Linked DNA regions of Homo sapiens. The protein of the gene in region 3 purifies or fractionates together with the protein of the main gene of each other region. This does not show direct contact. Each region holds a gene or a part of one and is shown on either strand. Other genes may lie near its edges. The genes, in order: FAM83F, FAM83B and POTEC.

Region 1 (3,652 bases), on a different chromosome or scaffold from region 3:
CTAGGGGAGGAGATCCCTGTGCTGTGCCTGAGACCCCACCCAGTTCCCCCAGGGAGATGACTGGGAAATGGCCAACACTTTTGAAGTGGCGAGAGACATGGTGCCATACTCCATCACATGGAACTGGCGTCCTCCTCGCTGCCATCCTGCCTGATGACAGCATCTCACAATGAGACCCCCAAGGTTCAGAGAGGCCAGGCCCTGTGTCCGTGGCTGCCCAGGGAGAAAGGGCAGTGTGATCTCCTGCCTCCCCAGCCTTCTGCAGATATCATGGCCATCTCCAGAAGGCTAGGATCGGCACCGTTTCCCTGCACCTTTAAAGACTGTTTGGGCCCGGCGTGGTGGCTCATGCCTGTAATCCCAGCACTTTTGGAGGCCTAGGTGGGCAGATCATGAGGTCAGGAGATCGAGATCATCCTGGCTAACACGGTGAAATCCTGTCTCTACTAAAAATACAAAAAATTAGCCAGGCATGGTGGCACTTGCCTGTAGTCCCAGCTACTCGGGAGGCTGAAACAGGAGAATCTCTTGAACCCGGGAGGTGGAGGTTGCAGTGAGTGGAGATCACACCACTGCACTCCAGCCTGGGTGACACAGTAGGAATCTGTCTCAAAAAACAAAACAAAACAAAACAAAAAACTGTTCGGAAGAACCAGAGCCCCAAATAGAGGACCAGCCCTTTCCCACGGTGTTGTGGGGGCCGAGAGGAAGATGACAGCAGCAACTTGCTTCCCAGAGTGCCTCGGGGTCCTTTCCTGCCCCAGAGTCCCTGGGCCTGTGCTTTGCTTCCCAGTTTCTCTGAGGTGACCTGCAGTGACAGTCCCTTTCCAGAACTCTCCTGGGGTCCCTGGATTTATGTGTGGTTGGCCCCCTGGCTGGCAGTGTGGTCTGGCTCTGTAGAGCTGTGGCTGCTGGGCCGCTGGATTGGGGGACTTGTTCTCCTGTGTCATCCCTTGGGGCCGCAGGTCTCAGATCTCTCTCTTGCTCTTGCTGCGTCTGGGGCATCTGCTGCTGTTATTACTGTTGTTACTAGGATTGTGCTAAACCCCTAAGTAGCTCGCCGTTGCTGTCTCATGCATTTTATTCAATAAATATGTGTCTACGAAGTGTCTGCTCTGTGCCAGGCCCTGCTCTAAGTTCCTGGCACAGCTGTGAACAGAATGAACATGGTCCTTGCTTTTATGGAGCATGTTACCCTGGGGAGAGACGAGGATTAGGGGAGGATGACCCTTCTATAAAGGGTGCCAGGGAAGGCCTCTCTAACCAAGGAGCCTCGGAGCAAGACTTCAATGGAAGGAGAGGGCCCTGTGGACATCTGAGGGAAGATTCTTCCAGATACAGGGAATGCGAAGCCCTGGAGCCTGTGCATGCGGTTTGCACATCATTGTCCTTGTCATGGCTTCCATGTGGGTGACCTCTGCCTCCCTCTCTCCCGCACCACCTCACCTGCCAGCAAACCAGACTGACTGCAGGTCCCGAGTGCCCCAGGCTGCCACCCTCACCCCATGCTTATGTCACATGGCTCCGCTCCGCTGAGCGGCCCCTCCTCCCACCCTGCACCCGTTTTCAGCTCCACCTTGGCGTCACCTCTGAAGCTCCCAGGCCACGCATACTTTGTAAAAAAGACTATTCTGGTCATTTATACACCTTCCCTGTTCACCTGAGCAGGGCTGACTCCCCACACGTGGTCAGCTCCCAATATGTGAGCACTCAGGGAATGACAAGGGACACAGAGTTTGTCCTCAAGCCAAGCCAGTTTCTCTGTCCTGTCCGGGGCTAGGAAATGAATTCTGAGTCTAGGTGCTGTCTCCAGGCTTTCACCCTGCCTTACAAAAAAGTGGGGAGCATGGTGCTGGTGAAGATGGGCCCTGCCCCTGCCTTGCCAGGCTTCTCCCGGAGGCAGCCAGCCGGGTGGTGTGCAGGCTTGGGAAGCAGCTACCCCCACCACCACCCACCACCATCCCACCCCCAGCTACACCGCCTCCCCTGTTTAACGATCTGGAGGTTGATTTGCTTACCTGCCTCCAAAATGCTGCTGCCTCTGGGGAGGAACTGACATCTGCTTAGTGGGCCACGCAAATCAAACCAGCTGATGGGGGGAAATGGGGACGAATGTGTCCATTGCAGCAGTGAGTGACTCTAAGATGGCCGCATTTCATCCCACTAGCAGAGCCGCCCCAGACGTGCTCGGCACCACTGCGGAAAGTGACCCCCAGCGCCTTGGCCATGGAGCCCTTGGGGCGCAGCCTCCTGCCCAAAGGTGGGGGAACACCCTTAATGAGGGTGCAGCTGGATTTGTGGTCAGTCCTGAAGAGCTCGTTCAGTCTGCCTGGATGGATGAGGCCCGAGGCCGTGGGTCACAGTGCAGTGGGCAGGAGCAGCAGCCTGTGTGGCAGGGCAGGGCTCCAAGTTGGGCTCTGTTCAGTGGGTCCTGCTCATGGCCCAGGAGAGGAGGCAGACATGGCCTTAATTAAATTCACAGCTGAAGTGATACTGGAAGGTTGTGTGAGCACCAGAGAGGCAGCCCTTGCTGTGTGGAGGGGAACTGGCAGGAAATAACACGAGCGCCTTCCACCTGGGGAAAGGCAGCCAGCGCTCCGAGGACATGGGCTCCCCGCTCCAGCGCCTGACACCTCGCAGGCCTGCAGGTGTCAGGCCTGCCTCGCTACTCCCCTGCACTCCCTCCGGAGGTCCGAGAGCAGGAATCCAGCCAAAGGAACCGCAGGCCTCATCTCAGGACTGTAAAGAGAGTGGGAAGGAATGGTAGAGGCCTGGGGAAGAAGAGAAATCAGCTTCTCTGGCCGGGGGCGGGGGACAGCTTTCTCTCCCCCTTCCCTCCCTACAGGCAGCGCGTTCCTCTCTGTCCTCCCTTCAAAGGCGCGTCCTAAGCAGTGTGATCCACCCCACGGTGGCAGCTCTTGGCCAGCGCCAGCCTTTCCTGAGGCGCCAGCTTTCCTTCTTCCAGCCTAGGCGGCCTGTGGCGGAAGGAGCTGGAACTGGACCGGGAAGGCCAGGTTCTGGCACTGTCGCTGGCTGGCTCTGGGAGCTGTGGGCACCTCAGCGGTAGAATGCGGCAGCCCGGGAGGGGAACCAGAGAGAAGGACCGCAGTCTTACTTTGCAGGCGGTGGAGCTGCATGTACTAGCTGGTAGTGAGCGGCCTCTTGGCTAGACGTGTGTGTGTGTGTGTGTGTGTGTGTGTGTGTGTGTGTGTGTGTGTGTGTGTGAAAGCAAGTTTATTAGAAAAGTAAAGAAACAAAAGAATGGCTAGTCTGTAGACAGAGCAGCCAAGACTTTGGACTTGATGGTTGTTGTCATTGATTCTGCAGCCTGGATCCTTCCCCGACCCCTCTTTGGTCAGGAGATGGCTGTCACCTTGATGTCCCACCCAGTGGGGCTCCTGCCGAGGCTGCTGAGACAGGCAGAATCTTCCCTTCTACTTTCCCGGGTGCCCTATTGACTTGGTTTCCAGATCAGCAGCTTGGGAGGGAGACAGTGACCCCAGCCCCTCAACTGGAGATGTGGACAGCACACAGGGTAGGAACTGAAGCTGAATCCACCAAGCGTTTCACTTACATCCTTCCCCGCCTCTGTCCCTTGCCTCTGCAGGTAAAACAAGTCCCAGTTCTGCCAAGCCTAGCAACTGTGTGATTT
Region 2 (3,652 bases), on a different chromosome or scaffold from region 3:
CCTGGAATCACATGATCATGAACGGTAGGAAACTTTTCCTCTGGGGACATCTAATTACTACCCAGTTTGTCTTTTGTTTTATTTTTACATTGTCCTTAAGAGTGGGGTGAGAAGTCCCCTAAGGGCACATGACATTTATCTTTTCAGCTGTGTCTTAAATAATTTGTAGATTACTGGTCCATGGGAAACTTAAATTAGTCATGGTCAGCCTCTCTTGCATACTGACATAGAGTCAGGTGTAGTCTCCCGGTTACTGGCAGGGGCCTATGTTGAAGAGTTTATAGAGAAGTTATGCAGTGATGATGATTATCTAATGGCTCTAACTTTGTGCTCTTTTACACTATCCCTTTGATTAAACATATTTATTGACCATTATCTGCCAAGCAATATGTTCCTCTCCAGGGGTAGGAAAGTAAAAATATATTCCTGGATCTTAGGAAGCTTCCAGTTTAGGAACCTAATGATAATTATAAGTACACAAATAAATAAATGGATCAAGTCCACTGATTTTTGTAGTTCCTTCCTATTCTCTGAAGGTCACAGCAGACGTTGTTTGTGTTCATTAATCATTTGTGAAATTGAACATTAGCAGCCCTGGGATAGTCATGTTTTTTGACAAAGTATTAACATTCTTTAGGCTTGCAGGTTTTTCACTGGTATTGTGAAAGGTTTAGACTATGTGGTCACTCCTGTGTCCCACCCACACTGCTCTGAAATTCTCTGTGATCACTTCTTATTGAGAGTATCATAAAATAATGTTAACTAAGGTTTCCCCACAGTATCACTGTGAAGCTTATTATTTCCACTTCTTTGGCCAAATTTTCATTTCAAAAGGTTTTCGTTCTTTAACATCAGATTCCTTCTTTGATTACATAAACATTACTACTTGGAGAAGAAAAGGCAGTTTTCAAAGCACTAAAGAGTGTCATCTTCCATCTCAATGGTGGTAATAGAATAACTCAACATAAGATGTTTGGGCTGTCATTTATATATACACACTGGCAATGATGGCTTTAATTCTTAACAGCATGTTACTCCAAATACCTAGTCTCATAAGACTCATTCAACAGATGTTTTAAAAGTACTATATTTTAACGGCTGGAAATAGTGGCTCACACGTGTAATCCCAGCACTTTGGGAGGCTGAGGCGGGTGGATCACAAGGTCAGGAGTTTAAGACCAGCCTGGCCAAGGTGGTGAAACGCCGTCTCTACTAAAAATACAAAAATTGGCCAGGCGTGGTGGCGGGTGCCTGTAATCCCAGCTACTTGGGAGGCTGAGGCAGAGAATTTTTTGAACCTGGGAGGCAGAGCTTGCAGTGAGCCCAGGTCGCGCCACTGCACTCCAGCCTGGGTGACAGAGTGAGACTCATCTCAAAAAAAAAAAAAAAAAAAAAAGTGCTGTATTTTTCTCAAATGTAACTTCTGACTTATTTGTTTAAAGATGAGTGCAATATAGCTAAGTTGTTTTTAGAGTAAGTAACTGTTTACAGTGTTCCCCTGTGATTCTTTTTTTTAGTTTCAACCCTTCCTTTCCATTTTCATCTTTATTGGCCTTTTCATCTTTTTTTGTCACATCTCATCCTTTGTATCCTCCTTTTGTCCCTTCTCTTCCTTCTTTTTTCTTTTATGCTTCTCTTCTCTTCCCTCCCATTATGTTTTTCTCTTCACTTACCTTCTCTTTTTATCTATCCCTTCTGAGTCCTTCTGATTTACTTTTTTTCCCGTTCATCTTTCTTCTTTCTCATCTCCCATTTCATACTTCTATTTATTTGTCCATTTCACCATCTGTTGAACTACCTATTTATTTACATTTTGTTTTGTTTTGTTTTGGTTTGGTTTGTTTTTTTGTGACACAGTCTCACTCTGTTGCCCAGGCTGGAGTGCCATGGCGTGATCTTGGCCCACCACAACCTCTGCCTCCCGGGTTCAAGTGATTCTCCTGCCTCAGCCTCCCGAGTAGCTGGGACTACAGGCAGGCGCTACCATGCCCGGCTAATTTTTGTGTTTTTTTTTTTTTTTTTTGAGACGGAGTCTCGCTCTGTCGCCCAGGCTGGAGTGCAGTGGCGAGATCTGGGCTCACTGCAAGCTCCGCCTCCCGGGTTCATGCCATTCTCCTGCCTCAGCCTCCCAAGTAGCTGGGACTACAGGCGCCCGCCACTACGCCCGGCTAATTTTTTGTATTTTTAGTAGAGACGGGGTTTCACCGTTTTAGCCGGGATGGTCTCGATCTCTTGACCTCGTGATCCTCCCGCCTCGGCCTCCCAAAGTGCTGGGATTACAGGCGTGAGCCACCGCGCCCGGCCTAATTTTTGTGTTTTTAGTAGGGACGGAGTTTCACTATGTTGGCCTGGCTGGTCTCAAACTCCTGACCTTGTGATCCACCCACCTCGGCCTCCCAAAGTGCTGGGATTACAGGTGTGAGCCACTGCGCCTGGCCTATTTACAGTTCTTTATTTCTGTCTGTCATCTTTATCAGCACAGTTCTCTACTTTGGTATTCTAAAAATCTGTACAAGTAAAATTAGAAGCATATCTCGTTTTATTGTGCTTTGCTTTATGGTACTTTGCAGCAATTGTGTTTTTACTAATTGATGGTTTCTGGCAACACTGCCTTAAGCAAGTCTGTCAGTGCCATTTTTCCAACAGCACATGCTCACTTTGTGTCTCTGTGTCACATTTTGATAATTCTCACAATATTTCAAACTTCATTATTATAATATCTTTTTTTGGTGATCATTGATCTCTGATGTTACTCTTGTAATTTTTTGGGGGTGCTACAAATCATGTGCACATATGACAGTGAACTTAATCTATAAATGTTGTGTGTGTTCTGACTGCTCCACCAACTGGCCATTCCCCTGTGCCTTTCCCACTCCTTGGGCACAGTATTGAAATTAGGCCACTTAATAACTCTACCAGGGCCTTTAAATGTTCAAGGGAATGGAAGAGTTGCATGCCCTCATTTTAAATCAAAAGCTAGAAATGATTAAGCTCAGTGAGGAAGTCATGTTGAAAGCTGAGATAGGCTAAAAGCTAAATCTCTTGTACTAGACAATTATCCAAATTGTGAAAGCAAAGGAAAAGTTGTTGAAGGAAATTAAAAGTGCTACTCCAGTAAACACACACATCATGAGAGAGTAAAATGGCATTGCTGATAGGGAGAAAATCTTATTGGTCTAGAATTCAAGGCTGTTCAATCTGTGGCCTGCAGGCCATATATAGCCCAGGACAGTTTTGAATGCTGCCCAATACAAATTTGTGAACTTTCCTAAAAGATTATTCGATTTTTGTTGCAATTTTTTTTTCTTTTTTTAAGCTCATTGGCTATTGTTGTTAGTGTATTTTATGCGTAGCCCAAGACAATCCTTTTTGGCCCAGGGAAGCCAAAAGATTAGACACCCCTGGATAGATCAAGCCAGCCACAACATTCTCTGCCAAAGCCTAATCCAGAGCAAGACCTTAACTCTCTTCAATTCTGTGAAGGCTGAGAGAGATGAGAAAGCTGGAGGAGAAAGGTATGAAACTAGCAGAGGTTGGTTCCTGAGGTTTAAGAAAAGAAGCTGTCTCCAAAATGTAAATGTGCAAAGTGAAGCAGCAAGTGCTCATGAAGAAGCTGAAGCAAGTTATCCAGAAAATCTAGCTAAGATAATTG
Region 3 (3,652 bases):
AGCTTATTTTTCTGCAACTAGATGGTCTCATCTGGGGGCAAAGTGAGACAGTGACATATCATCAGGCATTAGATTCTCATATGAAGCACACAACCTAGATCCCTCAGATGAGCAGTTCACAACAGGGTTCATGCTCCAATGAGTATCTAGTGCTATCACTGATCTGACTGGAGGCAGAGTTCAGGCGGTAATATGAGCCATGGGGTGTGGCCGTAAGTACAGGTGAAGCTTCCCTGGTTTGCCTGCTGCTCACCTCCTCCTGTGTGGTGTGGTTCATAATAGTCCATGGAGTGGTACCAGTCTGTGACCTGAGAGTTGTGGGCCCCTGCTCTGGGTGGTCCTACCGTAGATAAAAAAATAAAAGTAAGGAATTTTTGATCACAAAAGAACGCCAAAGCACAAGTCATGTTACATATCCTTGTCCCAACAAGGTCTCACTCTTACTGACTTCATTCCTCCTCATTTGAAGTTGGAAAGAGATACATTTACTTTGTTGGAACAAGATGTGTTCTTCTACCTGCTGGTCAATTGTCTTGATAACAGTAATTTTGTTAGAACAAGATGCTCTGCTACCATTTACCAAAAGATTGTCATAATAAATATACAAATTGCCCACTTCTAGGCTCAGCAGATTATAATAAAAGTAGAAAAATGTTTCACATTAACAAAAATACTAGTATGCCACCTGGTTGTGGACACCTAATACATTGTATAATCCAAACTGTATTAGGACACCTTTAATTTAGCCATCTATTTATCAAAAAGCTTCTGTAAGTTAGGTTTTATAAGTTGCAGGAGACAAAGATGGAATAGATGTAGTTTTGATCCTTAAGGTGCTCATAGTAGAGCTGTCTCTATTTCATTTCTGTGCTTTTTCAACAGAATTTACAAAGAAAACATTTCTATGTTTTCACTTGTCCACTTAACAAATAACTATTAAATGTCCTTTAGATACTAATCATTTTTCTAATGTTACAGAACACACACAATTAAAAATACAGACAGGAGCTTGTTATTATCATTGTCATTTTTATTATTTTACTACTTTATTCAGTGCTTACTGTGTGCTCGATGCCCACTGGAAGCTTATAATAATGATTTATTATATATTAATTATGTGCCAGACATATGTGATGAGGAATGAAAGTTTTGAAAAAAAGTAGGTATGATTCAAGGTAAGCATGCAGAGTGAGAAGAATTTTTCTAGGTAAAGAAGCAGAAGAATAATGTTTGGCAGAAGGAACATGCAACAAGATTGTGTGTTTGCCAGAAGAACATCTAATGAGGTTGCCTGTTTGGCAGGAAGAGCAGCAAGTGCAAAACGCAAGATGCTGAGTGAACCTTGCAGGGTTTCTGAGCAGTTCACTTTTGCTAGTACCAAAAGTGTGAGACACCAGAGGTTGGGAATAAGGTGAATACTTAGCTAAGGCAAGTTTATGATAGACTTTTTAAATACTATAGAAATGAGTAGGTCTTACCCTGTGGGCCACGGGAAATTTACCAGGTACAATGCTTTGGACTGTAAATACTAGATGAGCAGTGGCTAAAACAGTAGGAACCAGAGTTGTTTTGGTTGTTCAGTGATATCCTAGGATCCCACTTGTCCCTCTTTCAGCTGTGCTGTTGGCAGTGTTTTATTCATGTCTCCTTTCATGGTTGGCTAATCCGCAGCAGCTCCAAACATCTTGTTCTCACAACACAACATTTCAAGGGCTGCTTTTCTTCACATGTGTCTTTTAAACAGGGAGAAAACTTAGAAGCATGCAAGGGGCTTCCTGTAACATTCCATTGGCTGGGTCACACCACATGCTCATTCCCAAACCAGGCACTGGGAAGGCAAATACATGATTAACTTAGAATAAACATTTCTCTTTCTGAGGCTGAGGAGGGGGATTGGGATAATAAATATCCCAATAGACTTGTGTTTCTTCTGCAAGAAAGAATAAGGAATGGCTATTGATAGGGAGCCAACAATGTGTGCTGCAGGGGCTCATTGGAGAAATTTGAGCAGGGAAGTTACAAGATTAAATTTGAGTATTAAGGCATATTCTGCTTATGGTGTAAAATGGGTTAGCAAGCTTTTTCTGTAAAGGACCAGGTGGGAAATATTTTAGACTATGTGGTCTCTGTCATATCTACTTAACCAGGCTGTTGTCTGTTGTTGTAGTGTGAAAGCCACCATGATTATATGTAAGCAAACAGGCATGACTGAGCTCCTATAAAACTTTATTTACAAAGCCAAAAGGCAGACTGGATTTGGCCTGTGGCCTATAGCTTGCTGGGATTGAGGGAAGATAACCATGTAAAGAAACCAGGAGACAAAGGAAGCTTTTGCAGTAGTCAGCTATAGTTTCCATGTCACACACCCTTGGACTAGTATCAATGTATTCTAAGGTTTTCACCTGCCCATGGCAAAATAAAGTTTGGAATCTCAGTTACTCATTTTAATGTGTTGGCCTTTTTTTGGTGTTATGCTTTTTTCATTTGTTTTGCTTAATTTTTTTCATGTAAGAAATAACATTAATAGTTGGAAGGGTTGTTTGTAATAAAAGCCATTTTGTAAATGTTTATGTTCTCAGTGGCAGTGGTAATATAAAGCAGAGGAAGAAGAGAGGTATAGTCAATATGATTTAGTGATAATTGAATGAGAAAGGTTTGGGGGACAGAGAGAAATGTCAGATAATTTACAGGTTTCCACGTTGTACACTAGTATTTAACCTGGACATGAGGAAGGAGTAGGAAATTTTCTCCATGACCTGTGTGAGTCACAGCTTCCAGAAAAGAAAGAGAGCAAGGAGCATATTAAGGAAGCACAGCAAAGTCAGTCCTAGAGTGCCCTGCTTGACTTCATGTCATAGTTCTGACTTCTAAAAAATCATTTTCTGCAAAATGTGCTTTGTGTTTTTCCCCTCTTGCAGCCTGCAGCCAAACAGAATCCCTTTAGCAGGGCATTTTTCTGTTCTTCCTTTAAACAAAGCAACATATAAATAACAAAAAAGAAGTAAGAGAAAGAGTGTTTTTTGTATAGGCTAGCATTTAACTTAAACTTGAGAGCGAGTACTAGGATTATACTTAGAATTTATGGACTGGGTAGGAAGACTAGATAGAAATCTAAATATTGCTGACTCAAACACAGTGTGATTTTTTGCTTTATTGTCACAGCTCTGAATTCACAACTATTAGTTATATTCATATACACTATAACTTTATAAAGCACCTTCCCAAATATTAAGTGATTTATTATAATTTCTATGACTTATTATAGAATTGACTTTCCAAGTGTTCATGAGAATTATTAAGAATTTGCTACGTAGTATCATCTCAGCTGTGTCCACATGAGCTAGCTGTCACCTTGTCTTAATGAATAATGGCTCACTAGGAATATTGGTTTTGGCATTAAAATGATCTACATCTAAATACAGATAGGACCAGGGACCACTCTTGAACGTTAATGTCTAAGCATCTTAAAAGTACACATAAGGCTTTCATAATCTGACTTCTGCCCTACTCTACATCGTTAGCCCTTTTCCCTGTGTGCCCTTTCTCTGGCATTACTGAGTGGCTCTTAATGCCCTACTCACTCCTCCTTCTATTGCAGGCAAATACTTTCACTCTTTCAGGCCTCGCTCCTGCTCTTGCTGCTGTGTGGCAT

What was found.
Region 1: the proteins of POTEC (region 3) and FAM83F purify together in Homo sapiens (affinity purification with mass spectrometry; one large-scale study listed by BioGRID and IntAct). This does not show direct contact.
Region 2: the proteins of POTEC (region 3) and FAM83B purify together in Homo sapiens (affinity purification with mass spectrometry; one large-scale study listed by BioGRID and IntAct). This does not show direct contact.

Annotation. Positions count from the first base shown.
Region 1 is NC_000022.11:40,025,909-40,029,560, forward strand, and holds part of FAM83F (protein FAM83F), read left to right. Parts: intron 1-3,607; coding exon 3,608-3,652.
Region 2 is NC_000006.12:54,849,643-54,853,294, forward strand, and holds part of FAM83B (protein FAM83B), read left to right. Parts: exon of another isoform or gene 1-24; intron 25-3,652. UniProt on the Homo sapiens protein: Probable proto-oncogene that functions in the epidermal growth factor receptor/EGFR signaling pathway. Activates both the EGFR itself and downstream RAS/MAPK and PI3K/AKT/TOR signaling cascades.
Region 3 is NC_000018.10:14,526,601-14,530,252, reverse strand, and holds part of POTEC (POTE ankyrin domain family member C), read left to right. Parts: intron 1-3,652.